Homo sapiens: one gene and its partners. The protein of the gene in region 1 purifies or fractionates together with the protein of each later gene. This does not show direct contact. Each region holds a gene or a part of one and is shown on either strand. Other genes may lie near its edges.

Region 1 (7,738 bases):
GGAGGCAGAGCTTGCAGTGAGCCAAGATCGCGCCACTGCACTCCAGCCTGGGCGACAAAGTGAGACTCCGTCTCAAAAAAAAAAAAAAATTAGTATAAAATAAGCTTCTAAAATTTTCTCCAACCTTTATTTACTCTACTTTTTCTTTTGTAGCTATTTGGCATCATTATAATAAATAATTGCAACCAAGAACATATGTATACCAATTATACCAAACTCTTATTCTTTCTACAGATTTTGTAGCCCTTTTATGTATGTCTTTGAACAAAAGATATTACAGTCTTACAAGCTTCTTAAACTGCCTATGAAAAAGACCATTTTTTTGTTTGTTTATTTCTAAGTCATTGCTGACCAAAACATTTTGGTAAAATTCAATAAAATCATCATGGTAATTACACATTGCTGTCAGTGATTCTAAACGCTAATTCTCACTGTCTGTACTTACAACATCACTGATGGGTAGCAAATTATCTGTGGGCCACACTTAGAATTGCTGTTTTTTGTTTGTTTGTTTGTCTGTTTGTTTTTGAGACAGAGTCTTGCTGTGTCACCCAGGCTGGAGTGCACTGGTATGATCTTGGCTCACTGCAACCTCCTCCTCCCGGGTTCAAGAGATTCTCCTGCCTCAGCCTCCCAAGTAGCTGGGATTACAGGCACCCGCCCCCACTTCCGGCTAATTTTTGTATTTTTAGTAGAGACAGGGTTTCACCACGTTGGCCAGGCTGGTCTCGAACTCCTGACCTCAAGTGATCTGCCCTTCTTGGCCTCCCAAAGTGCTGGGATTACAGGTGTGAGCCACTGCGCCCAGCCTAATTGCACTTCTCTAGAACCCTAATACTTTGTATTCCAATGAAAGTAACTCTATGCAATGTGTGTTTTTTTTTTTAAAACAGGTATGCATCTTCTATTGATGATATTTTGGAAGATGAAGAACATTATGCAGATCAGTTAAAAGAGTATCTTTTTTATGCAGAAGCATTGCGGTAAGTTTAATAAAAGTTCCAGGTGCAGCCACAGGGTTGTTCACCACTCTCCTCATATGCCACTGTAAAGTACAGATAGTAGAGTGTTTTTTAAATGAATGCATTCCCTCAGATAATGAATGAGGTCTCATTGTATTTCTCTGTGTTGCAGAGTGCTAGGCATAAACATGTAAGATGAGGCCTGCCCTCGAAGCATCATTTTGATAAAACCTGCCAGCCTCAGGCATCAAGTGTGCCTGTATGTTGTTGTTTCCACTTTTTCCAGTTTGAAGATTGGAAGCAAAATACAGATTCAGTGTGTGTAACAGTATCTGTTACTATGTTGTATATTGCTATTTTTATTCTGTGTGTCTTATCAGTAGCTTGTACAACGTCCTTATGTAACAAGGACTTTCTTATCTGTTCTTATGTTATCTTTTACAGAGCCAAAGGGAATTCTCTTTTAGATAGTCCTACGTGACTAGGAAAAAGTTAATATATTTTTTTCTGATCAGTTTAGAAAAAGGAATTATTTTCCCAGAATAGGTGGCTTTTGGTCAGTTGTCCTGTCACTTTTTTTTTTTTTTTTTTTTGAGACAGACTAGAGTTTGGCTGTGTCACCCAGGCTGGAGTGCAGTGGCGTGATCTCGGCTCACTGCAACCTCCACGTCCCGGGTTCAAACTATTCTCCTGCCTCAGCCTCCTGAGTAGCTGGGATTACAGGCGCCCGCCAACACACCCAGCTAATTTTTGTATTTTTAGTAGAGACAGGGTTTCACCGTTGTTGGCCAGGCTGGTCTCAAACTCCTGACCTCGGGTAATCCACCCGCCTCGGCCTCTCAAAGTGCTGGGATTACAGGCATGAGCCAACACTGTCCTGTCGCTTTTAAAAGCAGTATAAGAATTCTGTTAGGAAAACAAGAGCACTATTCCCTTACCTCTGTGGTGATTGGTGTGAAATCATCTGCACATTGTTAGCTCGTTTTCCTTCTAGGGCTTTGAGTAGTAGGAAGTCTCACCAATGTATTTTCAAGTCACCAAGCAAAAGAAAGTTGGCTAGGTGAGGTGGCTCCTGCCTGAATCCCAGCACTTTGGGAGCCCAAGGCGGATGGATCACCTGAGGCCAGGAGTTCGAGACCAGCCTAGCCAACATGGTGAAACCCCGTCTCTACTAAAATTACAAAAAAGTTAGCCAGGCATAGTGGTGGGTGCCTGTAATCCCAGCTGCTGGAGAGGCTGAGGCAGAATAACTGCTTGAACAGGGGAGGTGGAGGTTGCAGTGAGCCGAGATCGCACCATTACACTCCAGCCTGGGTGACAGAGTGAGATTCTGTCTCAAAAAAGAAAGTTGCTGAGTACAGTGGAATTCTCTGCAGCTCTTAAAAATTATAAAAGGGATTAATGTATGTTGACATGGAAAGATGGCCAGGGTGTATAGCCATTTGAGAAAAGATGTAGGAACCATTTGGGGTGCATGGATATGGTATTTGTCAATGCCTAGCTAAATTCTGAAAGATTATATACTATCTGGTAACACCGATTATATCTGGATAGTGGGATTGGAGGAAAGAGAGTGTTCTTGAACTTTCTTGTTGTATTTTGTTTTTTTTATTTTTTTGAGTTGGAGTTTCACTCTGTTGCCCAGACTGGAGTACAGTGGCACAATCTCTGCTCACTGCCACCTCTGCCTCCTGGGTACAAGTGATTCTCCTGCCTCAGCCTCCCAAGCAGCTGGGATTACAGGCATGCACCACCATGCCCGGCTAATTTTTGTATTTTTAGTAGAGATGGGGTTTTACCATGTTGGTCAGGCTGGTCTTGAACTCCTGACCTCAGGTGATCTGCCCACCTCGACCTCCCAAAGTGCTGGGATTACTGGCATGAGCCACCATGCCCAGCCTCTTTTTTTTACTTTGTGCATTGCTGTATTAGAATCTTTTCTTTTCTTTTTTTTTTTTTTTTTTTTTTTTTTTTTTTGAGACGGAGTCTCGCTCTTTCACCCAGGCTGGAGTGCAGTGGCGTGATCTCGGCTCACTGCAGGCTCCGCCCCCCGGGATTCACGCCATTCTCCTGCTTCAGCCTCCCGCGTAGCTGGGAGTACAGGCGCCTGCCACCTCTCCCGGCTTTTTTTGTATTTTTAGTAGAGACGGGGTTTCACCGTGTTAGCCAGGATGGTCTCAATCTCCTGACCTCGTGATCCACCCGCCTCGGCCTCCCAAAGTGCTGGGATTACAGGCATGAGCCACCGCGCCCATCCGAATCTTTTCTTTTTACAGTGAACATGGATTACTTTTATGATCATAAAAACTAATAAACATTTCTAGGCCAGGCGACATGGCTCATGCATATAATCCTAGCACTTTGGGAAACTGAGGTGGATGGATTGCTTGAGCCCATGAGTTTGAGACCAGCCTGGGCAACATGGGCGAGACCCCATCTCTACAAAGCACAAATTAGTTGGATATGGTGGCACATGCCTTAGTCCCAGCTACTTAGGAGGCTGAGGTGGGAGGATTGCCTGAGCCCAGGAGGCAGAGGTTGCATTTAGCCGAGATTGCACCATTGCCCTCCAGCCTGGGTGACAGAGTGAGACCTTGTCTCCAAAAAAAAAAAAAAAAAAATACCTAATAGACATTTCTAAATCACAAAGAAGAAAACTTTGAGGTATTATCTTTTCTAAGAATACTCAGTTGCTATGTGAGATTACAGCATTAGTTCTTACATTATGTAAGAACTAATTATGTATGTAGTTCATTATGTATGTAATTATGTATACATATGTATACATTATGTATGTAGTTCTCACATACATTAAAAAATGTTTTATGTATGTGATAATGGCATGTTTATTGAAAGAAATGTTCCAAGTATATGGAAAACAACTTTTTTTGTGTTAAGAATATATGACGTTTTTGGCCGGGTACAGGTGGCTCATGCCTGTAATCCCAGTACTTTGGGAGGCCGAAGTGGGTGGGTCACCTCAGGTCAGCAGTTTGAGACCAGCCTGGCCAATATGGAGAATTCCCATCTCTACTAAAAATACAAAATTAGCTGGGTGTGGTGGCGCATGCCTGTAATCCCATCTACTAGGGAAGCTGAGGCAGGAGAATCATTTGAACCCGGGAGGCGGAGGTTGCAGTGAGCCGAGATCGCGCCATTGCACTCCAGCCTGGGCAACAAGAGCAAAACTCTGTCTCAAAAAAAAAAAAAAAAAAAAAAGAATATATGAAGTTTTTATGGTTAGGTTCTGCTAGATTCCATTAGATTCCATTTTTAATGTTGGGCTACTACATTTTAAACTTGAAAATTCTGGGCACACACATTCTGCCCTAGCGAGACATTGTGAATGGTTCTCCTCTACCCTTGAAAAAAATGTTTGACATGTTAAAGGAAAAGTTAAATGGCAGCACATTTTTTCATCTGTAGGGCTGTGTGCAGGAAACATGAACTTATGCAGTATGACTTGGAGATGGCTGCTCAGGACTTAGCATCCAAGAAGCAGCAGTGTGAGGAACTGGTAACTGGGGTGAGTATTTTCCTTTTGGCCTCTGATGATACTGTAGCAACACGGAATGTTCCTCACAAGCACTCACTCTGAGTGAGTAACTCACTCCTGTAGAATCAGTTCCAGTTACAATACTCAGGACGGCTGAACCTTTTACAGGGGAATAATTTGTGAGTAACTTTATAATTCTTTTATTATTATCTTGATACAAAATGATGTAAGCCATTAAAACCATGTACTGTATAGAATTATAAGAAATTTTGCCAACATTTCTCTGGTGTAATCAGTATCATCCGGTTTCGTTTTAAAAAAAAAAAAAATTATTGGGCTGGGCACGGTGGCTCACACCTGTAATCCCAGCACTTTGGGAGGCCAAGGCCAGTGGATCACCTGAGGTCAGGAGTTCGAGATTAGCCTGGCCAACATGGTGAAACCCGATCTCTACTAGAAATACAAAAATTAGCCAGGTGTGGTGCCTCACGCCTGTAGTCCCAGCTACTCGGGAAGGTGAGGCAGAAGAATTGCTTGAACCAGGGAATCGGAGGTTGCAGTGACCCGAGGTCACGCCACTGCACTCCAGCCTGGGTGACAGAGCAAGACTCCATCTCAAAAAAATTGTTTTTATTAATTTTTATTTTTTGAGACAAGGTCTGGTTCTGTTTCCCAGGCTGGAGTGCAGTGGTATGATCAGGGCTCATGGAAGCCTCAAACTCCTGGGATCAAGTGGTCTTCCTGCCTCAGCCTCTTGAGTAGTTGGGACCACAGGCATGTGCCCCCATGCCTGGCTAATTTTGTTTATAGTCTCATCATGTTGACCAGGGTGGTCTCAAACTCCTGGACTCAAGTGATCCTCCCACCTCCGCCTCCCAAAGTGCTAGGATTACAGGGGTAAGCCACCATGCCTAGTCTATCATCTGGTTTCTAAGTCCAAGTGAAAAAACATGCAGTGACCTTTATCAGGTTTAACTTTGCAAGGTACTTTGCAGAAATTTTAGTTGACTTTGAAAAGCCTTACCCACTTAGAACCAGTGCATCTCGCCTAACAGGGAGCTTTTGATGTACTTTATTCTTTAATGCTTACAGTGAGTACTTGTGAGGAAAATTCTGTACCTGATTGCATTAGTCTTGGATCATTTTTATAATCAGCTTTCTACTCCAGTTATTTCATTGCAATAAATCAGCCATCATGGTGAGCAACACACATTCTGAAAGTAGTAAACCAGCAGCAATGTCTCTACTTAGTTAATAAGCACTGTAGTTTTTGTTTGTTTGTTTGTTTGTTTTTAGACCGAGTTTCGCTCTGTTGCCCAGGTTAGAGTGTGGCTCACTGCAAGCTCCACCTCCTGGGTTCACACCATTCTCCTGCCTCAGCCTCCTGAATAGCTGGGACTACAGGCGCCTGCCACCACGCCCGACCAATTTTTTTTTTGCACTTTTAGTACAGACGGGGTTTCACCATGTTAGCCAAGATGGTCTGAATCTCCTGACCTCGTGATCCGCCCGCCTCGGCCACCCAAAGTGCTGGGATTATAGGCATGAGCCAGCGCGCCTGGCCAAGCACTATAGTTTTAAAAGTGCTTTTCACAGAGATTACCCACTGGCTACATCTGTGAAAAGTCACAGATATATGTGGGGAAAGACTTGTGACCAGGACACATGTATAAACTAGGCCCTTGGTTTATTTTTAAAACTCAGTGGGAGAAGTTCCCAGGCCATTTTCAGGGAGCTTGGTTCTCTATCCTACATGTCAAGGGAAAAGTGTTTTCTTCAGTAAACTCCAGAGAGTGAGGAAATGTTAAAGCAGTGAAGCTTGGGGTTGCCTTCCCATGCTTGGATTTAGGTATCCTGTTTTATTAATAGATGCCCAAGTTTGAGCGTTGAGTTATGCAGATTTTAAATATGCTTCTTTAGTTTGGTTTATTTCCATAGTTGCCTAGTGAATTTATCGACTTTTTTTATAACATAAAGTAATTTTTAAAATATCATTCATACAGAGTAAGAAATAACGTCTAATATTTCACGTGGAAGTTTTCCATTTGATTATGAAATTCAAGCCGGGTATGGTAGCTTACAATGGCAATCCCGACACCTTTAGCAGCAGAGGCGTAAACCCAGAATTGCTTGAGCCCAGGAATTTGAGACCAGTGTGGATTAATATAGCTAGACCCTGTCTTTACCAAAAATTTAAAAATTAGCTGGGTGTGGTGGCATGCACCTGTGGTCCCAGCCACTTGGGAGGCAGAGGTGGGAGGATCACTTGAGCCCAGGAGGTTGAGGCTGCAGTGAGCCATGATTGTGCCATTACATTCTAGCCTGGGCAACAGAGCAAGACCCCATTTCAAAAAAAAAAAGAAATTCAGTTAGAAGTGTCTTCTTTTTGACTACTCCATATTATTTCAGTGTTAGAAATTCTATTAGGATTCTTGGCTATGACTCTGTAAAAATAAATAAAAACTCATATAAGAGATCCCTGGTTGTGAAGCTTATGGTGGTTTTGTCTGACTTAGGGGAAATATGGCAAATGTTTTCTATTTCCTTTGTGTGTGTAGTGAAATATATATAACATAAAATGTACCATCTTGTCCATTTTTAAGTATATAGTTCAGTAGTGCAGTCATCCCTCAGTATCTTCAGTGAGATTGGTTTAAGGATCCCTGGGATACCAAAATCCTCAGATGCTTAAGTCCCTTCTATAAAATGGTGTAGTATTTGCATGTAACCTGTGCATATCCTTTTGTATACTTTAAATCAGCAGTCGCCAACCTTTTTGGCACTAGGGACCTGTTTTGTGGAAGACAGTTTTTCCATGGACCAGGGCAGGGGGTGCTGAGGATGATTTCGGGATGAAACTGTTTCATTTCAGATCATCTCAGGCATTAGATTTTCACAAGGAACACACAACCTGGATCCCTCACATGCGCAGTTCACAATAGGGTTCGTGCTCCTAAGAGAATCTAATGCCTCTGCTGCTGATCTGACAGGAGGCAGAGCTCAGGTGGTCGCTTGCCTCCTGCTATGCAGCCTGGTTCCAAACAGGCCATGGACTGGTATCACTCCGTGGCTCTGGGGTTGGGGACCCCCTGCTTTAAATTATCTCTAGATTATTAATACCTAATACAGTGTAAACACTGGTGTCTCATATAAGTGGAATCATACAGTATTTGTCTTTTTGTATCTGTCTTATTTCACTTAGCATAATGTCCTGCAGGTTTATCCATGTTGTAGCATATATCAGATTTGATTCCTTTTAAAGGCTGAATAATGTTCCATT
Region 2 (7,738 bases), on another chromosome or scaffold:
TCAGATGCTCTACAGCAACCTTCAAGCACAGGCACCGATTTGCATTTTATGCAAAACTTCAGGTTTTACTCAATTTTTACACTGGTGGAAGCTGATGTCAGTAACTTAAAAGGCAAGCAAATACTTTTCCAATTCTTAGCTGAACAAAAAATACACACAATGTAGCGTTTTTATTGGGCAAGACTTGCTTTTTATATTTCACGTGAGAATGCAATATAACCCTTCCTTGAACAAAATGACCAGGGTACTAATAAAACCATCTTTGCAGGAGTGTTTAATAAGCATATTTTATTTAAATAAATCCTCCAGTAGGAAATGGAGAATTCATTGCCTTTACTTAGAAGGCTATGTAAATAGCTATCTGTCAAATTTATATATGCAGCTCACCAATATTCCCTTACTGGAAACATCAGTATTTCCACATCACATCACAGTTCCCAAAACGACTTTAAAGTCTCAAAATTCCGTGTCTCCTTTGGCTTGCTTCTCTCTTGATTCCACCCAGGCTTTATTAATGGTTCGCTTCATATCATCGTCTCCATCTTCATAAATTTTCTTTAGAACATTCATCAATCCCTCACTAGGATCTGTTTCAGTGTCATAGGAGGGCTTCCTTTAAAAAGAAAACATATACAACAATGGGGAAACGAAAGCACCGGAAGATACTATCATTCAGGTTGTTAACACTGGCAGGAAGTAGAGGGATAAGAAGGAAGACAGAGTACCCAAAGATATTTACAATCAAAACGGCACGCACAAATTCATCTTAATGAAAACAACACACACGTATCAAGCATGCACACACTTGGTGCACGAAAGAGGTCATCAAAATAGTTAGGGGCTATTTTTAGGCACAGGGATTTCCCATGATTTTTTTTTTTTTTTTTTTTTTGAGACAGTCCTGCTCTGTTGCCCAGGCTGGAGTGCAGTGGCGCATCTCGGTTCACTGCAACCTCCGCCTCCCAGGTTCAAACAATTCTGTCTGCCTCAGCCTCCCGAGTAGCTGGGATTACAGGCACATGCCACCATGCCCGGCTAATTTTTGTATTTTTAGTAGAGACAGAGTTTCACCATGTTGGCCAGGCTGGTCTCAAACTCCTGACCTCAGGTGATCCGCCCGCCTCAGCCTCCCAAAGTGCTAGGATTACAGGCGTGAGCCACCCCACCTGGCCTCCTGTGATTTTTGACAGGTAAAATAAGAATTTGATTTTCTAACTTGTTTTCATTTTTTAAAAGCATGTTTCCTCATAATTTGAAAAAAAACACTTGAGGGAAAATCATAAACATTACACATGGATGTACCCTGAAGCTCATGTATTTTTTAATTAGAAAAACTCTCCTCTTAAGCCTGAGATACACAGATCTGGGCCTGGGTCTTGAATTAATTTAGTCAGTACCTTTAGAAGATGAACTGACCTAGAACGCAAGTATCATTGAATACACATTTTTAAAAGGTCATTATTAAGAAGGATAAAAATATTTTATCTTTTTCACTATAAACCAGTGACAATGAAAACTACGCATCAGAAGCATCTGAGAAATTTAAAACATACAGGGGTACCTAAGCCCCTCTCAAACTACCGAAACAGAGTATCTGGGAATGGGCACAGTTATTTGTATAGAAGCACAACTGCGCCTAGGGTTAAGAACCACACTAAAGAGCCAACCCTTAACTACAAAGACCTTAAAAAGCAACTTGCTGGACGTGCCCTCTTCAGGTAGTTTGACAGTTGAAAGCAGAAATACATTATCCATAAAGACAAACTATTAAAAATCCATGATCTCAAACAATACACTAAAATTCTTTAAAAAAATGGAAGTAGACTCACTCTTTTTCTTTGCACTCCTTTTCAACCTGGGTCAGGTAATCCCACCTTGTGTTTTCCACTTTCTTTCTACACAATATAAGAACTGTATCAGTCTTGACCTGGAAGAAAAGCAGGAAAACAAATACAGCTTAGAAGACATGGAGATAAGCATGAATATTTATAAAACAATTATCTATTCAATTGATCAAGTCCCTAGTATGTATAGACTTATTTTGGGTGCCAGTAATACTTGTATGAATAGGCCAAAATCTGAACATTCATGGTGTGAAAAGACCATAAATAAGTAAAACTTGAATACCCTGATATCCTGGAAAGTGCTATCAAGACAAAGCGGGTGTTAATGGGGGGTGGGGGCAGGAACTTCATTAGGAAGGCCTCTCTGAGGCAAATCTGAGCCGAAGCCTAAGGTCAGGAGAAGGCAGTTGGCAGAGCATGCAGAATGGCTCCAAGATGGGATCATCTTGGTGTGTTTGAGGAGCAGGAGGAGTGGCTGGATTTTAGTGACTGAAAAAGACAGTAATATAATAAGAGGGGTCGGGGATAGGCAAGAAACCAAGTCGTATAAGGCAGTATGGGGCAAGGTGAGGCATTTGAAAGTGAGAAAGAAGGGCAATGTACAGGTCTTTTAAACAATGATCAATACTAGGGATCTTTTGGTACTCTACCTATGGGACTAGCGGATGCAGAAGGGTGCAGTAAGACAGCGAATCCAACTATATTTGAGTATCACCTGTAAGCTGTTAAGTAATTATGTATTATAAAAACAGATGGCAGAATGTCATGTCTATATACCTAACGCATTAAACTTCATTTATTCACATTAGGCAGAAAACAGGGACTATCTGATTTAGTAAAAATTACAAAGAGTAGTTTTTAAAAGACAGTTTCCTTATTTTTATAGCTGCTTCTAACTCCAAGGAGGCTAAGTGCTTAAGACCTCCTTTTATGTATACGAGTATTATGCACAATGCTAACACTAGCATTAATTTAAGCACTTTACATAATGGTATTGCACTTCAGTGTATCATTTCAACTTTGTGAAATAAATTATTACTATCGCATAAATGCAGAAACTGAGGCACAGAGTGATTAAGCTGCCAAAGGTCACAAACAATAAGCTGTAAACCTGGCATAAAACTCAAGTCTCACTCTTAACTACCTTCAAACGTTTACTTCCTCCCTGATTTTAATGGAATATTCTTACAATAGCCTATTCTACAAAAGGAGTTGGCAAATGTTCTCTGTCGAGGGCCGCATAGTAAATATTTTAGGTTTCATTTAGGGCCATATGGTCTGCTGTAGCCACTTAACTCTGCCATTGTAGCACAAAAGCATCCACAAACAACACATGAACAAATAAGCCTGGCTATGTCCCAATAAAACATTCACAAAACAGGCGGTGGTCCCTGTTACAGAGGACAAATTCATTCCAGTTCATCTCAGTTCTAAATCAGCCAGGTTCAATTTGGTAAGGTTTCACAATATTACAATCAAAAAAAGCACACTCACTTTTTTTGAACTGCCTTCCACAGAGATGGGTTTCAAGAGATTGTTCACAATCATGGAGTAACTCTTCCCATTTAGATTCTTTACCAAAAGATCAAATGACCTGCAACACAATGGTGAATACATCATCTTTCTAGTTCTATGAAAGGTACCCTTACTCCATAGTTCTTGTGGGAAAAAAGCTGCTGGCTTTATTTCAGGGTGTGCATTTGGCCAGTTAACGCTCACCTCTTCAAAGTAGTTGTAAAGGATAATTAATTCTAAATTTAAGAATTTTAAAAACTGCAAAGAAGAGAGTCTCAAGATAAGGCAATGTTGACTGTTAATTCACTGTCTTTCCCATTATAATGAGAACTCACCTCTCTGTGAAATGCACCTGCACATTCTCAGTGGGAACTTGATGAACTCCAGTTAAGGTAATGTAGATTTTCACAAACTTATCTGACTGATCCCATCCTGGCAACGACAACAAAAGATGGGACGTAAGTAAGCCTCTGAAACTATCTTTAGAACAGCAAATGCACATGGCTCATAAGTCAGGAAAGTAAAATTATGAAAATCCAGTCATATAAACATGAAAAAATTTGAAATATAAGAAATTTTCTAGGTTGAGAAATGGAGCCTCAAAGCAGTTAAGTACTCTACCCAAAGCTAGGCATCTAACAAGTGGTAGAATTCAGATTCAAATCCAGGTTTCTGAATACAAAACCTATGCTCTTTTTATCCCTCAGAATAAAAATATGATCACTAAATACATTCTTTAAGATTAGTTCATTTACAGCTTTTATGGAAACAATTTTGTCCGACATCTAAATATTGGTAGTTCTCCACTAAGCTGGATGGCTAAGTATCAATACTAATTCCATAACCATTTCTACTTCTGTAAGTAGTCAAACAAATGGAATCCTAGCTCTCTTAATTCCTTTCCAGGGCAAAGTAGAATGTAAAAGACTCCAATTCTTCATCCAAATCTGACAAACCTACTGGTATCTGTTAAATGCCATTTCAGTATGTATTATCAAACTACCAGCACGTCTCTGACCTAGAAGAACTCTGTCAACATAAAAGACATATATATAAATACTTCACAAAATACCATCACATTTGTAGAAAATAAAAAACTTCACAAAAAAGCATCTTCTGTTTATCAAGAATATATACATACATATCCCTGACTATTGCTCACTTAGTCCTATAGAATAGAAACATGCCCCATCCTCCATGACGTTTTTCACATTGCATGCCTATATCAAACATCTCATGTACCCCATAAATATATACACCTACTATGTACCCTCGAAAATTAAAAAGAAACAGTGTTGATGAAAAAATGCCCTAGTGGGGTCCAGAGAACTTCATTTATTAATAGTTTCTTCCCATTCAGTCAGTCCATCCTCCGGATTGACAAGTTTCTCCCTCAACACAAATCTATGTTCCTGGTTAAAATACCATAATCCTCAACACCTTCAGACCAGTTTCCTATACTCAACTGAGTACACGGTGCAATTTCCTATATTACTATATAGTACATCTCTTAAGCACGACATACACATGCTTTTCACTATTAACAATATTCAAAATAGATCATGCCTTCCAACTCTCTATTCACATTCTCTGCTCATGCTGTTCCCCTCCTTTTTGACTTGCTGAATGTACGACTCACCCTTCACACTCAAATCTCTCTAATTCTCCCTGTTCCTCACCTCCAGAATTATTTCTTCAGCTATGTTACCTATTATGTGCTAGACATTATTAGCACAAAGAAAAACAAGACTGTCCTTGCTCCAATGAGAGCTCATCATTCATATTCAAGTTGCGCTGCCGCCAAAACAAAAAACTGTATACACCATTGAAGGAAAACAGTATTACTACATTGTTATACTACGAGTTATACGTCAATGTCCCAACCACAACATGAGCAAGGACTGGGTCTTAGTCACTGTTGTGTATCCGTAAGTCAAAGCACAATAGTGATACACATTAGGTGCTCAAAAATATTTCCTGAATTTAACTGGATTCCTCTCCTCAGTTAATTGTGGTGGTTGGCAGAGTGAAACATAAAACATGATTAAAAACCACCACCACCACCACCACCACCAAAGCTGTGTCTTATACTGAACAATTTCAGAATAAGTTCCTTCCTTGTTGTTACATTTTGTAGTGAATCACCTTACTCTTGTTAACAGCTTCTAGAACGCATCCTTTCCTATTTATATCTTAAAAAAGTTTTATTAAATAAAAACTGATGGGTCTTGCTCCAAACCACCAAAAACACAGACTCAAAACTCATTGGGGATGAATTTGTTAGACCACTATGAGGAATAGGTTGCTCGGAGGCAGAACTGGCTATAGGGAAGCAAGTCATACCATAATTACTGATTTTCACCGTATAGCCCGTTGTAATGGGAGCAACCACAGCAGCTGGTTTTTCATTATCAAGAAGTTCTGCTTTCTTCTGTGATTTCTGTTGCATCTTGTTCTTGATTTCTGTCTCAATCTTGGATTTTTCAGCTGTAAGGGCATCACGTACTCTTTTCCTAGTAGCCTTTTCCAGCAACACCTTTACCTCTTCTAGATCTTTCTGTAGCTGTGTTAAGACAAAAAATAAGTTAGCTATGATAAATAAGGAAATGGCTTGATATTGTGCGTATCACTCATTTCAACTTACTGAAATAAGCACTAAGAATTAAGAAGTTCATCTAAATTTTCTAGGATTGAGTTGCAACTTCAATTCTTCCATCTGGCTTATTAACTGTAATTAACTCAAGCTTCCTTTTTTTCAAAAGGAAAACTTTGAACAATCTTGAACAAACAATAAATAGGTCTTCAAACCTAAATTTTCCAGTTTATGTTTTAAAATATTTACAAGAAACGTCTGCGACCTAAAAAGTAAAACAAAGAACTTTTTTTTGACAAAGGATTCATAGATTTCCTTGTAACATCTAATCCGAGTGTCATTAGATGTTAGACACTTTTAAAATATTTAAGAGATGAGAGAACATGCAGTGACCATGGTAAAATGCTTTTATAGCAAACTTAACTGAGGTAATGAATGCTCCACTTTCTGTCACTGATTGGTCTTCATTATCTTCCCACCTCAAATACCTCACATAAAAAAAGTCTTAATTTTTAAGACAAAAGATAAAAAAAAAAATTTCTGCTTTTGAGGAAAAGTCTTGCTCTGAAGCTGGGTCAGTCTTACACTCAGAAGTGTAGGAGTTGGTTGCACAGAAGGTGACAAAAGACCGAAAATGCAACATACTCTTGGAAATTATCTTTTGAAAAAGCCACCACGTTCTCATTTTCTTCTCTTGCCAATCCATCATCTATTAAAGTCTACTACTTTCTACTTTCTAGAGATAGAGGCAACATTTTATGAAATTCAAGAGTTAAAGACAATGTTAGAAAATTATTGAGCCTAAGTTTTTTTTCCCCCAATTACCCTCTGACATACTGCAAATACACAAGATCTTTCCAAACAGCTGTTTCACTTTTCTTACAATAACTTTACACTCTGGCTTGACACTACCAACTTGACCAAAAAAATCTTGTGTCACAGCTTGATATCAAAAGCTCAATTTAAAAAAGTCTTTTAGTGCTTTATAACTCAGAATATCAGACGCACAACAGAGTTTGAAAGCCTGTTTCTTAATAGTCTTATAAAATGCAATAACAGAACTAATTCTTTTCTTTTACTACAAGTCTTTTGTTATCTCATTTAACTCAGATGCCCTAGTTTTGCCTATCTATAACAGATGACATGGTATAAAAAGTTCAACTCTGGCCAGGTGCAGTGGCTCACACCTGTAATCCCAGTACTTTGGGAGGCCAAAGCGGGTGGATCACTTGAGGTTAGGGGTTCGAGACCAACATGACCAACACGGCGAAAGCCCGTCTCTACTTAAAATTCAAAAATTTGCCGGGTGTGGTGGCACGTGCCTGTAATCCCAGCTACTCGGGAAGCTGAGGCAGAAGAATCGCTTGAACCCGGGAGGCAAAGGTTGCAGTGACCCGAGATCGCGCCATTGCACTCCAGCCCGGGCAACAAGAGCAAAACTCGGTCTCCCAAAAAAAAAAAAAAATCAACTCTGCCCAACCCTCTTGTCCACACTCTCGACCCTTCCAAGAACAGCTCATATTACTATGACAAAAAATCTTGCAAACTCATCTTTTGAGCATAGAACCAAAATGTTTCAGTTCAAAGTAATATTTTTATTGTAATGGTTTCAAAAAAACGCTGATTCTACAACTCCTAATTCATAATAAAAATATTGAAATGTAAAATGAAATATATTAAGTCTAAGCAAGAGGTTTTGCTTTTTGACTGAAATAGGAATACTTTATCTAGCAGAATGAGAAAGGTACTTCGAATTAGGCAAGGGATTCCCCCAATGGCTGAATTC
Region 3 (7,738 bases), on another chromosome or scaffold:
TCATCTTTCCCTTCCAATATTCCTTAGCTGTGTAGGTTCTCATATGCATACTTATGATCTCATGGTTACGAGGCATTTGATGTTCCTCCTCCAGCTCACATTCCTATCCCAGGCAGGCAGGAAGAGCAAAGGGGTCTATATCTGGAAAACATAAGCTCTCCCAGAAGCCCTCTGCCTGTGTCACATGACTTTCCTTAGCTACACAGGAGTCCAGGAAAATTTTTTTTTTTGGCTTTTCTAAACACTCCTCCTCTGAACAAAATTACACTTCTGTTACTGAGGAAGCTGGGAGAATTGATATCAGAGAAGCAACTAGCAGTACCTGTTATGTGGGATTTCCAGCACTCACAAATGGTTGCTGACCTTTTACCTTCCTGGGAAAAAACAGAAAAACTAAAACAGCAACCCAGAGTTCTTTAAAAAAAAAAAAAAAAAAAAAAAGCAGGTCAATATTGTGGTCAACAAGTTATCCTAGCTCCATATAATAGAATAATGTAATTAGAGTTTATAGAGTATAATTATTATTATTTTTATTTATTTATTGAGGGGGGTCTTGTTTTGTTACCCAGGCTGGAGTGCAGTGGCGCAATCTCAGCTCATTACAACCTCAGTCTTCCGGGTTCAAGCGATTCTCATGTCTCAGCCTCCCGAGTAGCTGGGACTACAGGCACACACCACCATGCCCGACTAATGTTTCTGCATTTTTAGTAAAGACGGGTTTTCACCATGTTGGCCAGGCTGATCTTGAACTCCTGACCTCAAGTGATCTGCCCGCCTTGGCCTCCCAAAGTGCTGAGATTACAGGCGTGAGCCACCGTACCCGGCCTAGAGTATAATGATTAATGTTTATCCCAGTGATCTGAGTCATCAAGAAAAGGTTTATAATAAAGTTAAGATAGTATTTAATGCATTTTAGAAAGACTTTTCTTTAAACATTTTTGTTCTTTGAGAGTTTTATGTTCTTCTGTCTGGAAGACTTCATCCCAAATGCCTGTGATTGTGCGTATCACAGCCATTGTTTACTGCCTAATTGGTTTTCATATTCTGCAAGTTCTAACCCTCTGAAGTGATGCCCAACCTTTTCCCCGCATACGATGGTTCTCAGGGCTGGCTGCTGTGAGCTTCACTGTGTTGTTTTCTGACAGTGCTAATGCCTGGGCCCTCCTGCTCAGCTTTTGGTTCCCTCTGCTGCTGTGGAACTCTGGCTTCTGCCTGTCTCAAGGCTCAGCACAAAAGAGAATTCGTAGCACTTTCATGTGAAAGCAGACCCAGTCATTATTATTTGTATTCAAGAAGAACATGGTAGTTTCAAAATGAGTGCTACTTTTAAAATACTTCTTGAATCTTTGAATATTTTCTTTGACTATCTTGAGTATACAGAACAGTGTAGGACATTGTTACCAGGTGATATTTTTAAACCTCTATTATGTACAGTTGGTAAGATAATATAAAAACAAATATTCTTAGGAAGAAAAAGCAAATACTCAAATGAAAATGAAAATTATAAAGAGTGTCAAAATGCTGGTTTGGAACAAATGAACAAATTTGAAAAACTCAGAACAAAGAACTATTAGGAGTAGGTAAGAAAAATAGAAACGCTGTGATTATTTTTTGCTAAATAGGTTTTAGTAGCATCGTCTCAGACAGATAAATGCTTACCCTTATAATTTTTTTTTTTTTAAATACAAGGTCTTGCACTGTCACCAAGGCTGGAGTGTAGTGACACGATCTCGGCTTACTGCAACCTCTGCCTCCCGGACTCAGGTGATCCTTCTGCCTCAGCCTCCCAAGTAGCTGGGACTACAGGCGTGCCACCATGCCTGGCTAATTTTTGTATTTTCAGTAGAGTCGGGGCTTCACCAAGTTGGTCAGGCTGCTCTCAAACTCCTAACCTCAAATGATCTGCCTGCCTTGGCCTCGCACAGTACTGGGATTACAGGCGCTAGCCACCACACCCAGCCCCTTATAATTTTCTTTGTAAAAAAAGTTTATAGGCCAGGCGCGGTGGCTCATGCCTGTAGTCCCAGCACTTTGGGAAGCCAAGGCGGGCGAACCACGAGGTCAGGAGTTTGAGACCAGCCTGGCCAACATGGTGAAATCCTGTCTCTACTAAAATTACAAAATATTGGCCAGGTGTGGTGGCTCACACCTGTAATCCCAGCACTTTGGGAGGCCAAGGCAGGCAGATCACAAGGTCAGGAGATCAAGACCATCCTGGCTGACACGGTGAAACCCCATCTCTACTAAAAATACAAAAAAATTAGCCGGGCGTGGTGGCGGGTGCCTGTAGTCCCAGCTAGTTGGGAGGCTGAGGCAGGAGAATGGCATGAAGCCAGGAAGCAAAGCTTGCAGTGAGCAGAGATCACACCACTGCACTCTAGCCTGGGCGACAGAGCGAGGCTCCGTCTCAAAAAAAAAAAAAAAAAAAAAAAAAAGTACAAAAAATTAGCTGGGCGTAGTGGCGGGCGCCTGCAATCCCAGCTACTGAGGAGGCTGAGGCAGGAGAATTGCTTGAACCTGGGAGGCGGAGGTTGCAGTGAGCCAAGATCGAGCCACTGCACCTCCAGCCGGGTGACAGAGACTCCATCTCAAAAAAATAAAAATAGATAAAAATTATAAATATTTTTTAACCTATTTTAATTTTCCATTGCCCACTAGTAGTAAGTTTCACACATTTGGTTTTTCTTAATACTTTGATTCAATTGCTGCATGTGTGTTTCTTAACAAATTTGGAACATACCAATTATAATGGTGATAATTTATTTGAATTACAAGCCAACATCAAGTAAATGAGTTTAAATATATTGTCTTTAAAATACTTAGATTGTACTAAACTTTTCAGAATTAAGACAGTTAAACATTTTTGATGTGCCCTATAATTGTCTCATGGAATATGAATATTTTCTGGATGTCAGTTCTCAGAAAAAAATTCTGCTCTGGAGTTATTGTCCTAAATCTGAAACGCTATGGGCTTACTGAATTATCCTTATTGGAAAAATACTTTTTTTCTAGATTAAGGGTGTTTTTTTCTCTTTAATTATCTGGACATATGACTGACTTTTCATATGTTTTGTACAGAAAATGGTATATTCTAAAAGATTTTTGTCATTTTGTCTTAAAGCCTGTGTAATCTATAGCCTTAATGATTTCTTCCTTTTTGTGTCACATTGTAGGACGGCAGTGTCCGTGGGCTGATACCTCTGTAGTGTTTCCATGGTGATTTCAGAATTTGTTTTTTCTCCTCTTCATGCCCACTCTAGGGTTCTGATCCCACTGCATTCTCCGTCCTTACCCAAGCCATCACTGGCCAGGTGGGTTTTGTGGATGTGGAATTTTGCACTACCTGTGGAGAAAAGGGAGCAAGTAAAAGATGTTCAGTTTGCAAAATGGTAAGAATGGAGTTCTTTTTATTTCATTGACCTCTGGTTTAGATGCAGCCAAGCTGATGATTGAGTTTTAATATTCTGTAAGAGTGGACATTAGTTTTCTAATAAATTCTAGTAACGAAAATATTCTATTTAATACTTAAAAAGTAGTTTTGGAAAAGAATTAATAGGATCAATATAGTTCTTTACTGTGTCTGTCTTCTGCTAAACTGCCAGTCTTCCTTTGCCTCTTTGCTGATCACCTCATGGAAAGAAAGGATATGAATGAATGAATATGAGAAAATAAGAGAAAGGTTTTCCGTGGGGCACGAGACCAAGGCTGGTGCAGATGTGAAACCTAGAATAGGACAGTTCATAAATATACATTCTTTACTCTTCTGATGTTGACTTTAATGACAGTGTCTTCATCAACATATCCTTGTAAAACTATAGTTTCTGACTGTTACCAGTCTTTAATCCCTATGGACTGTACTGCCCCCTTCTGCCAGAATTATCTTTGTAAAAGGCATATCTGATTGTGTTGTTCTCATATCCAGATACTGGACACATGCATGTGTCCGTACATTCACTTAATCCCATAGGTAGCATCAACTGCCTGTTGACTTTAAGGTTGAAATTCTCCAGCATGTTGTATGAAACCCATTATAATCTGCTGTGACCTACTTCTTCAGCTTCATCTTGTTTAATGACTTACTTCTCTGAACCTGTTTCCTGAATTAAATGAAATTCCAGAATTAAATCAAACTATTTATATTGGTTAATTATTACTGCTTATAAAAACACACTCAAACTCAGTGCTTAAAATGATAATCATTTAGTCTTTCTCTCACAGTTGTGGTTGGCTGTTCTCAGCTGGGGCAGTTGTGCTCCATGTGACTCTCATCCTTCTTGTACTAGCAGGCTAGGCTGAGCATGTTGTCATGGCAATAGCAAAGGTACACATGGGCAGGTAGAAACACAGAAGACCTCTCAAGGACTAGCCTTGAAATTGCCATGTTGTTTCATGCTGTTGGTTGAAACAAATTACATGGCCCAATCTGAAGTCAAGTCTCCTCCCCTTCAGTGCAGAGAACTTTGAAATCATGTGAGAAAGTGTATGAATGCAAGGATGAATGAAGAATTGGGGCCAATAATACAATATATGTATAAGGGCCTACCACAGTGCTTGGCATACAGTAAGTGTTTAATAACATTCATTCCCATCTCCTTTCCACCCCTACTTGCAAAAATATAAGGCCATTTACAAAAACTTCTTGCTGTTCTTGAACATATCATTCACTTCCCTGTTCCTGCATTTTTGTACTAGATATTTTCTCCAGTTAGAATTCTTCTTTCCCATTTTTCTGTCTACCTCGACTCACCACAGCTAGAGTGAGTTGCTGCTTCCTCTATGCCTCCATCACTCTTACATCCTGTACTGTGTTAAGAAATTATGTATTTAGGTGCCTGCCTCTCTCCCTTCTTCCATATCTTTCTTTTTCTTGATGCTAGCTACCTTTGGGACAACTCTATCTTCCTTGTCATTGTACTGTACCAATTCTGGCACATAGCGGGTTCATAATAAGCTATTTGCTAAAGTCTTTGGTAGACTGTTTGTTATATATTCATTATTGTTTTAAAGTAAAGCTACAAACTATAAATCTAAATCAATACAAAGATACTGTGTTAGGCCGTTCTTACGTTGCTATAAAGAAATACTTGAGACTGGGTCATTTATAAAGAAAAGAGGTTTAATGGGCTCACGGTTCTGAAGGTATACAGGAAGCATGGCATGGGCATCTGCTCAGCTTCTGGTGAGGTCTCAGGAAGCCTTCAATTATGGTGGAAGGTGAAGGGGGAGCAGGCATGTCACATGGCAGGAGCTGGAGCAAGAGGAGGTGGGGGAGTTGCCACATACTTTTGAACAACCAGATCTTGTAAGAACTCACTCAGTATTGTGAGGACAGCACCAAGGGAAGGGTGCTAAACTGTTCATGAGAAAACCGCCCCCATGATCCTATCACCTCCCACTAGGCCCCACCTCCAACATTTGGGATCACAATTCAGTATGAGATTTAGAGGGGACAACATCCAAACTATATCAACCACATATTATGGTTTTAAAATAAAGTATGGAAAATGACATTTTTATAGCTTAGTTCTTGGTTTAGTCATAGTTAGGAAATCATACAACCCAAGCTCTGGAAATGAAAATAAACCAACAATTGCTTTCAGGTAATATATTGTGATCAAACCTGCCAGAAAACACACTGGTTTACTCATAAGAAAATCTGTAAGAATCTGAAGGACATTTACGAAAAGCAACAGTTGGAGGCTGCCAAAGAAAAGAGACAAGAGGAAAACCGTATGTATATAAAAACCGAGTTCACTCTGCTTTTTAGTGGAGAGAGAGATGATAGGTGATCTTAACACACTGAAACTGCGTCTTCTCTGGAAGCCATAGGAGCTCAGGAGTGACCGATGTAAGAATCACATTTAAATTTTAATGTGTCCCGTTTTTAAGTTCTTAGGATATAGTCAGCCTGGACATCACTGGAAAACAGAGACATCAAATTCTGAGGGATGTAGCTTATTTCATATTTTACATTCTAGCTTAGGTTACTGCCCTGGAACAATGGGACCCTTAATGGGTATTAACTTATATTCTGCTCATGAAGGATTTTAAAGTCTTTGAATAAGGGAATTAATTAAATTTCCACTAATGGCTACCAGAAGATTTTAAGGGTGGAAGCCTTTAAATTCCTTAATTAAATTTCAGAACTACAGGTGAAATTACAGAGTATATTTATAAATCATTCATTAAATTGCAGATCTAATATACAGATCAAATTTCTACAAGTGTCATAGCAGTGAATTTTGTATTTTTTTTTCTCCATCCCTCTTGAGGTTTTGTGACCCATTTTCATCAGAAATAGTGAGTTGCTTCAGCAGTGATTATCAGATTGGAGAGGAGAACTGCCCCCACCCTCATGCCTCATTCCAGAGAATGTATCATATGTTCTGGGGGAGTGCATGTAATTTGAAAAAGATGCCTCGGTTATTCTGATACCAGGCATTTCTGCCTCCATCTCTCAAGGAACCATATCCGCTTTACTACTGGGTTGAGATATACTCTCAGTGGAATTAAATGGTTTGTACACAATTAAACCATTTATCCTTAAGAGAATAGTCAGGCTTTCTGACTGCCATGCCTTCTCTTGTTTTCTTGACCAAACTTTTTTATTCTATGTGCTAAGGACAGAAAGTAACAAATGTTCATTACTAACACACTATTGAGGGAGAATAAGATTGTCAGTAGAATGGGCACTCCCAGTTGTTAAGCATCATTCATGCACCAAACACTGCTCTAAATGTTACAGACAACTTTATTCTTCACCAATGTAGGATAGCCTTTATTACCTGCATATTATAGACAAGGGAAACAACTTCATGCAGGCAATTACCTCTCCAAGGACATCAAATAAATTCACAGAAAAGCTGTATTCAAATACAGGCTTTGTCAAATCCCAAGCAACAATCTTGATTTAGAGATGGCTTTGGAGCCAGCGGCCTGAGTTCAAATGCTGGTTCTGCTGTTTCACTAGCCAGGAAACTTGCAGCAAGCTACCAAACCTCTCTCTTCTCAGTTTTCTCATTTGTAAAATAACGTTAGCGATGACAGTAGAGATACTAATATACCTCATGTAGTTGATAGGAAGATTAAATAATACATGTAAAGCATTGAGAAGAGTGTCTGACACATGGTAGGAACAAAATAACTTCTTCTTTTTTTAATCAGACGGCAAACTTGATGTCAATTCTAACTGTGTTAATGAAGAGCAACCAGAGGCTGAAGTAGGTATCTCTCAAAAGGATTCCAATCCTGAAGATTCCGGGGAAGGAAAGAAAGAATCTCTTGAAAGCGAAGCTGAGTTGGAAGGCTTACAGGATGCTCCTGCAGGGCCACAGGTGTCTGAGGAGTAAAAGCCAGAGCAAGTGCCAGTGTGGATGATCCTCACCCTGCAAGAAGCTGGAAAACTCCTAGGAATGCATTGTCCTCACCTTGTTATACCTGCGTGGCACCATGGCAGGATTCCACATTTCATAGAATACAGGTTTTCAAGCAAACCCCTGTTGACCATGCCCTAATTTCCTATTGATTTCTGTTCTATAATTGAATGGATATTCCTATGGAAAATTTTTTGTTTCAAAATACAGGAAAAACATTCCTATTACCTTTCTGAGGCTGGCTTTCCAGCAATTGTTTCAAAGGAAAATAGATCCCCTTAAAGAAAAAATACAGGCTTTAGGGAACAAAGGGACAAGCAGAACAGGTGTGGAAGAGAGATTTTCAGGAAGGGAAAAATTTATAG
Region 4 (7,738 bases), on another chromosome or scaffold:
TTGAAAATAAGCCCCTCGGGCTGGGTGCCGTGGCTCATGCCTGTAATCCCAGCACTTTGGGAGGCTGAGGCAGGTGGATCATGAGGTCAGGAGTTCGAGACCAGCCTGGCCAACATGGTGAAACCCCGTCTCTACTAGAAATACAAAAATTACCCGGGCGTGGTGGTGTGTGCCTGTAATCTCAGCTACTCAGGAGGCTGAGGCAGGAGAATCGCTTGAACCTGGGAGGCAGAGGTTGCAGTGAGCCCAGATCATACCACTGCACTCCAGCATGGGGGACAGAGCGAGACTCCATCTCAAAAAAAAAAAAAAGAAAAAAAAAGAAAATGAGGCCCCTGGCCATGAAGCTGGACTTCTGAGGCTTCCTGAAGGCTTCAGAAACCCATTTACATGCCCCATGCTTGTGTTTCTCCTTAAGTAGCAGCTGGGATGATAACTTTGTTAGTATTTCTCTGAAGAGGTCTTGTTTTTACAGGCAGGTCACTGCCACAATAATGAGAGAACCTGGGACACCAACTCGAAGTCTGTTGCTCTCCATTTATCTCTGTGGATAATTAACCAATTCTTGCCATTTGAAGGTTCAATACAGGAAAGGGTTTCCAGGGAGGAACAAAATGAGCTTTTGGAAGTTAATGTAATAAAACTTCTTTGTAAATAATACCTTAAAAAAATCTCGGCCAAGTGTGGTGGCTCATGCCTGTAATCCTAGCACTTTGGGAGGCTGAGGCAGGAGGATTGCTTGAGCCCATGAGTTTGAGACCAGCCTGAGCTACATAGCAAGACTCCGTCTATATAAAAAATAAAAATAAGTTAGCTGGGTGTAGTGGCGGACATCTGTAGTTTCAGCTACCCAGGAGGCTGAGGTGGGAGGATGGCTTGAGCCCACAAGGTTGAGGTTACAGTGAACTGTGATCGTGCCACTTCATTCAGGCCTGGGTGATAGAGCAAGACCCAGTCTCTTAAAAAAAAAAAAAAAGTAAAAATAAAAAAGGCCTCTGAGTCATGTTATATTTATTTTATTCCTGTATCCTCTCACTAGCGCCCACAGTCTGTAGTTAATAAGAGAAAAGTAGTGTTAGTAGTGCATGACAGTTAATGTGCCTGGTTTGGGAAAGTCTCTTTCCACCCATGGGATACAGTGCAGCAGACACGCTCAGAGGCTGCATTGCTCAGGAGGGTTACAACTCCAGGCCAAGCTGCTGCACAGTAAGTGGCTGCCCCATAATGGTAATGGATGTCTTTACCCTTGGTGAGCCTGTTCGTGTTTGCTTTTGCAGGTCAGCGCATTGTGAATAGGCTGAGAACTTCATTATTCTCCTCCATTCTGAGGCAGGAGGTTGCTTTCTTTGACAAGACTCGCACAGGAGAATTGATTAACCGCCTCTCATCAGACACTGCACTCCTGGGGCGCTCAGTGACTGAAAACCTCTCAGATGGGCTCAGGGCCGGGGCCCAGGCTTCCGTAGGCATCAGTATGATGGTATGTGGGCCTGGTTCCCCTTGGTACCTTCCTGCCAGGGCTTGGCTTGCACCAGGCCTCTCACGTGTGAGACGAGCTCAAGCTGAGCGGTTCGCATCATTCTGTAAGTGCCTAGAGCCAAAAGTGCTGTTGCAGAAGCTGCTGGAACGTGGGGATTGCCTCTGCCTGCATGGCCTCTTGTACCTTCATTTCTCCAGAATGAGTGATTATCTGGAAAATGGACTCATGTGTTACTGCTGGGTATTCTGAGATGTGTGTACCCGGGGTATTAAGGCAGAAAAGAGCATCAGGTAGAAGGAGCACTGGGTACTACCCTGTGGGTGGCACCAAGCGGTGACTAAATTCCATTCCTCTGTGTGTGTAAGTCGAACTGTGCTCTTTTAAGGGGAGAGCTCTTCACTCCCATGGCCTTTTTTCCTTTCCTTAACTGGGTGGCTTGTGCCTGTCCTGTCTGCTTGCCTTACCTCTTCAACCAGTATTTCTATTCAGCCCAGTGCTGCAGGTCATTGGAGAGGCAATGCAAGCCACATATGTGATTTTAATGTTTTAGTAGCCACATTTAAAAAAGCAAAAAGAAGCCAATGAGATTAATTTTTTTTTTAATTTTAATTTTTTTAGAGACAGTCTCACTCTGTTACCCAGGCTGGAGTACAGTGGCAAGATCATAGCTCACTGCAGTCTTAAACTCCTGGGCTCAAGTGATTCTCCCACCTCAGTCTCCCAAGTATCTGGGACTACAGGCACACACCACCAAGTCTGGCTAATTTAAAGAATATATATATATATTTTTTGTAGAGGCAGGGTCTCTCTATGTTGCCCAGGCTGGTCTCAAACTCTTGGCCTCAAGTGATCCTCCTGCCTCGGCCTCCTGAAGTGCTGGGATTACAGGCTTGAGCCACTGTACCTGGCTGAGATTAATTTTAATAATGTTTTGTTTAAGCCAGTATAAACAAAATATTGTCATCTCAAGATGTAATTAATATCAAAATTATTAATGAGGTATTTTATATTATTTCTTTCATATTATAGTTGACCCTTGAACAATGCAGGGGTTGGGACACTGAAGCCCACACAGTCAAAAATCAAAGTATAACTTTTGACTCCCTAAAAACTCAACTACTAATAGCCTACTGTTGACCAGAAGCCTTACTGATAACATTAACAGTCAATTACCATGTATTTGGTATATGTATTATATACTATGTTCTTATAACAGAGTAAGCTAGAAAAAAGAAATGGTATTAAGAAAATCATAAGGAAGGTAAAATATATTTATTATTTATTAAGTGGAAGTGGATCATCATAAAAGCTTTTTTTTTTTTTTTTTGAGACGGAGTATCGCACTGTCATCCGGGCTGAAGTGCAATGGCACGATCTTGGCTCACTGCAACCTCCTCCTCCCGGGTTCAAGTGATTCTCCTGCCTCAGCCTCCCGAGTAGCTGGGATTATAGGTGCCAGCCACCACGCCTCGCTAATTTTTTTGTATTTTTAGTAGAGATGGGGTTTCACTATGTTGGCCAGGCTGGTCTTGAACTCCTGACCTCGTGATCTGCCTGCCTCAGCCTCCCAAAGTGTTGGGATTGCTGGCGTGAGCCACTGCGCCCGGCTCATCACAAAAGTATTTATCCTCATTGTCTTCACACTGAGTAGACTGAGAGGAGGAAGAAAGGTTGTTCTTGCTGTCTCAGGGGTGGCAGAGATGGAAGAAAATCTATGTATAAGTTGACCCATGCATTTCAGACCAATGTTGTTCAAAGGTCAACTGAATTTCCAAATCTGGTGTGTATTCTCTACTTAAGGAACATCTTAATTCGGATGCTAAATTTTCATTGAAAGTACTTGATCTATATTTAGATTTTATAAAATGTACAATTGAAAAAGTAGTTTGACATACTCAAGTTTTCCAGACATACTTAATAGTTTGCCAATAACTGAATGGAGTATAGGCTTTTAAATTTTAATTAAACCTAAATACAATTAAAAAGTCAATGTCTCAGTCATACCTGCCACATTTCAAGTTTCCAGTAGGGCTATCGTTTTGGGCAGTGCAGTTCTAGACTCGTGGAATAAGAACTGTAAATAATCCTTTCTCACAAGTGGAAAAGCTTGGATTCTGTCCTTTGTGTCCCATGAAGCACTTAGAGAGGAAGGGTGTGTTGCCTATTAGATCTGACTTACGGAATGAAAAACAGCTTTGAAATCTCATGATTTTCCAGCTAAGAGAGAAGCAAACCTCTGGAAGAGGACCCTTCCTGCACTAACATGCCGTTTTCCAAATATGAATAGTTTTGGGGATCAGGAAGAGTTCAAGCTGGGAAAAATCACTTGGGGTACTTTTTGTAACAAGGAAAGGGAATTCAGTGTAGGTCAGATGAGCAATTCAAAGGGGTCTGTTTGGGATGCCATAATAATACCACAGACTGGGTGGCTGAAACAACAGAAATGTATTTCTCACAATTCTGGAGGTTAGAAGTCCAGGGTCAAGGTGCTAGCAAAATAGTTTCATTCTGAGGCCTTTTCTTGTGGCTTGGCTGAAACAACAGAAATGTATTTCTCACAATTCTGGAGGTTAGAAGTCCAGGGTCAAGGTGCTAGCAAAATAGCTTCATTCTGAGGCCTTTTCTCTTGGCTGGTAGGCAGCTGCCATCTTGCCATGTGCTCACATAGTGGAGAGAGAGTGTGCTCTAGTGTCTCTTATAAGGACACTAATCCTATTGGATCATGGCCCCACACTTAACGACCTCATTTAACCTTAGTTACTTTCTTAGAGGCCCCATCTCCAAATACAGCCATGGTGGGGATTAAGGCTTCAACATGTGAATTTCAGGGGGAATTTCCATTCAGTCTGTAAAAGGGCCTCAGGAAGTGGCTTCACCTAGGATCTGATCTTTGGCTCTAGGGGATCAGAAATGTGACTTTGTTTCTCCTGCACAAACTCATGGACCTGACATAGGGGAAGTCCAGTTATGAGAACCTGATATTGTGTATGGCATACTGCCAATTTATTAATTTACATAGTGGGCCTACCCACCATTAAGTTGTGTTTCTGCTATTCCTTTTTTTTTTTTTTTTTTTTTTTTTGAGAGAAGGTCTCACCCTGTTGCCTAGGCTGTAGTGCAGTGGTGTCATCTTGGCTCACTGCAACCTCTGCCTCCCGAGCTCGAGTGATCCTCCCACGTCAGCCTCCTGAGTAGCTGGAACCACAGGCGTGCGCCACCATGCCCGGCTAATTTTTGTATTTTTTATAGAGACAGTGTCTCACCATGTTGCCCAGCCCACTGGTTTTGAACTCCTGGGCTCAAGCGATCCGCCTGCCTCAGCCTCCCGAAATGCTAGGATTACAGACGTGAGCCACTATGCCTAGCCCATTTCTGCTATTCAAAACACTTCATTATGGTGCCAGCACCCTGTATTAGTCATCAGAAGGTTTTTCATTAAGTGTGGAACCAGAGTGAAGGGAGGGGGGTGGTTCTGGACAGTTCTAGGAGAATCTTGATGGACTGTGCCTGCCCTACACAGAGGACACCTGTCCAGTTGGTTCATTTTGACATCAGTTGTGTTCAGGCCCCAGAAGTGTTAGACCTGCCCTGTTGGTCTCATGTCCTGATGGTGACCATCAGAGATATGATTATGTTCCCCAAGACTCACCCCAGGTGTCCTGATGGACTTGTCTTCTCAGGGTGGGACATTCCTATGCACATCTGCTTGCTCCTCTGTGAAGGTGCCAACCTCCTTTCTGCCTCAGGGCCTTTATGCAATGGCTCTTCCCTCTTGGGGGAGAGGTCTTCCAAGATTGTGTTACATCTGCAGTGATACTTTCTCTTTCTTTTACTTGTTTATTATCTAAGTCTCACCTCTTCTTTCTTGCATGAAAACTCTGTGAGGGTTGGTTATCTCCCAGGTGCCTGGAATAGTGCTTGCACTCAGTAACGTGGGCTCTCAGTAATAACTTGTTGAATGAGTAAATGAATGAGTGAATGATTGGTTGATCCATCCACTTATGTTTCAGTTTGCAGTTTTTCCTTAGTATTATTTAGCCGTGTACTGATTATACTATTTTCTGTGCAAATGAGATATGGTAGATTTTAGTAATTTGTCGAAGAGATGCCAGTACTATTGAAAGTACAATCACCAAATTGCAATGTTGACAGGAAAACCCTCTGTTACTTACTTCCAGAAGTTAGGTTATTCTTTCAGCAATTCCAATTGCTAGAAGCTCCTCAGTATATTGAGCCCAGATCCATCCTGCTGACTTCAGTCCACTGAGCCATAAAAGCAGCTCTAATTCTTCTTCGACTTGTTAGTTGTGTCCTCCAAGTCCTCTGTTGACTGTTATGCAATGTGCTGTTTTTTTTTTTTTTTTTTTTGAGATGGAGTTTTGCTCTTGTTGCCCAGGCGGAGTGCAGTGGCTCAATCTTGGCTCACTGCAACCTCCACCTCCCGGGTTCAAGCGATTCTCCTTCCTCAGCCTCCCGAGTAGCTGGGATTACAGGCACGTGCCCCAACACCCAGCTAATTTTTGTATTTTTAGTAGAGATGGGGTTTCACCACGTTGGTCAGGCTGGTCTCGAACTCCTGACCTCAGGTGATCTGCCCGCCTCGGCCTCCCAAAGTACTGAGATTACAGGCGTGAGCCACCACACCCCACCCGATAATGGGGTTTTTTGGTGACTTCACCATCTTGGTCATTTTGATGGGACGTGTTGCTGTGGTTGTTCAGTGCCTGCAGGTGGTTCAGACCTGAATATACAACTCCTGAGGTGGACTGGAGCGTGGAGCAGAATGGGCCTCTGCCAAACCCCCATCCTGTCTCTTCCCACTCTGTTGTTAAACCGCGTGGTCTGATCTAGTATTGGCCTGAGGATTCTTTCTTCAGCAATTTCTTGTCACATTTCTTCTATGTGGCATGCTGAATATTTATGGGGTTTTGTGAAGAATAAAGATGTCTGAAAAATTCCATCAAAACAGGATGTAACAACTTGGGGACAGTACCTTCAAGCCTGCTGTTAATTTAAACACACACACACACAGACACACCCACACACACACTCCCCTTTCGTAGGTAATGAGAATGTCTTGCCACCCAATGTAACAAACACCTCTGAATTTTTTTTTGTTTTTGACAGTTTTTTGTCTCACCTAATCTGGCCACCTTTGTTTTGAGCGTGGTGCCTCCAGTGTCAATCATTGCTGTAATTTATGGGCGATATCTACGGAAACTGACCAAAGTCACTCAGGATTCCCTGGCACAAGCCACTCAGGTAAAGGCCCCTTCCTGTCCGCGTGGTTTCCAGCAGAATGGGGTCATAGCCAGGATCCTAGAGGGCAGATCCTAAGGGATGTACTTAGGTTTTTCAATGAAGTGCCTGCCTTTCCTTTCATTAGAAATTACCCCAAGATCCATGAAACTTAAACTACTCTGTTTTCTAGACTAGATTTCTACCCATATCTCAAAGTAGATCTAACTTCACTAAACATTTTATGGAGTCCTCACTTGTTACTATCACTATTTCTTTTCTTTCTTTTTTTTTTTGTTTTTTTTTTTTGAGACAAGGTACATGAGAAAAGTTTTTTCATGCACTCTAGGCTGGAGCGCAGTGGTACAATCACAGCTTAGTGAAGCTTTAACCTCCCAGGCTCGAGTGATCTCCCACCTCAGCCTCCTTAGTAGCTGGGACTATCGCCCCATGCCACCATGCCCACTAATTTTTAAAATTTTTTGTAGAGACATGATCTTACTGTGTTGCCCAGGCTGGTTTCAAATTCCTGGGCTCAAGTAATCCTCCCACCTTGGCGTCCCGGAGTGCTGGGATTACAGGCATGAACCACCATACCTAGCCACTATCACTATTTGTTATAGGACAAAACAGTTAATCAGGTTTTGAAAATAGTTACTAGATAAGTGTTTCATTAATTTAATAAATCTAGCTTTGCAGTGCTGTGCAACGTTATCTTTTCAAAAATTAAAAATGGCCAGGTGCGGTGGCTCATGCCTATAATCCCAGCACATTGGGAGGCCAAGGCAGGTGGATCACCTGAGGTCAGGAGTTTGAGACCAGCCTGGCCAACATGGTGAAACCTTGTTTCTACTAAAAATAGAAAAATTAGCTGGGCGTGCTGGTTTGTGCCTGTAATCCCAGCTACTTGAGAGGCCGAGACAGGAGAATCGCTTGAACCTGGGAGGTGGAGGTTGCAGTAAGCCGAGATTGCGCCATTGCACTCCAGCCTGGGTGACAAGAGTGAAACTCCGCTCCAGA

The links.
Region 2: the proteins of SNX4 (region 1) and CACYBP purify together in Homo sapiens (affinity purification with mass spectrometry; 2 studies listed by BioGRID and IntAct, with this or other methods). This does not show direct contact.
Region 3: the proteins of SNX4 (region 1) and ANKMY2 purify together in Homo sapiens (affinity purification with mass spectrometry; 2 studies listed by BioGRID and IntAct, with this or other methods). This does not show direct contact.
Region 4: the proteins of SNX4 (region 1) and ABCB10 purify together in Homo sapiens (affinity purification with mass spectrometry; 2 studies listed by BioGRID and IntAct, with this or other methods). This does not show direct contact.

The regions. Positions count from the first base shown.
Region 1 is NC_000003.12:125,454,016-125,461,753, reverse strand, and holds part of SNX4 (sorting nexin-4), read left to right. Parts: intron 1-893; coding exon 894-983; intron 984-4,388; coding exon 4,389-4,488; intron 4,489-7,738. UniProt on the Homo sapiens protein: Involved in the regulation of endocytosis and in several stages of intracellular trafficking. Plays a role in recycling endocytosed transferrin receptor and prevent its degradation.
Region 2 is NC_000001.11:175,002,798-175,010,535, reverse strand, and holds part of CACYBP (calcyclin-binding protein), read right to left. Parts: intron 5,923-7,738; coding exon 5,703-5,922; intron 3,792-5,702; coding exon 3,695-3,791; intron 3,439-3,694; coding exon 3,339-3,438; intron 1,928-3,338; coding exon 1,830-1,927; intron 614-1,829; coding exon 457-613; 3' UTR 1-456. UniProt on the Homo sapiens protein: May be involved in calcium-dependent ubiquitination and subsequent proteasomal degradation of target proteins. Probably serves as a molecular bridge in ubiquitin E3 complexes. Participates in the ubiquitin-mediated degradation of beta-catenin (CTNNB1).
Region 3 is NC_000007.14:16,600,372-16,608,109, reverse strand, and holds part of ANKMY2 (ankyrin repeat and MYND domain-containing protein 2), read left to right. Parts: intron 1-3,198; exon of another isoform or gene 3,199-3,260; coding exon 3,261-3,389; intron 3,390-5,600; coding exon 5,601-5,730; intron 5,731-7,164; coding exon 7,165-7,349; 3' UTR 7,350-7,738. UniProt on the Homo sapiens protein: May be involved in the trafficking of signaling proteins to the cilia.
Region 4 is NC_000001.11:229,541,241-229,548,978, reverse strand, and holds part of ABCB10 (ATP-binding cassette sub-family B member 10, mitochondrial), read left to right. Parts: intron 1-1,277; coding exon 1,278-1,480; intron 1,481-6,607; coding exon 6,608-6,742; intron 6,743-7,738.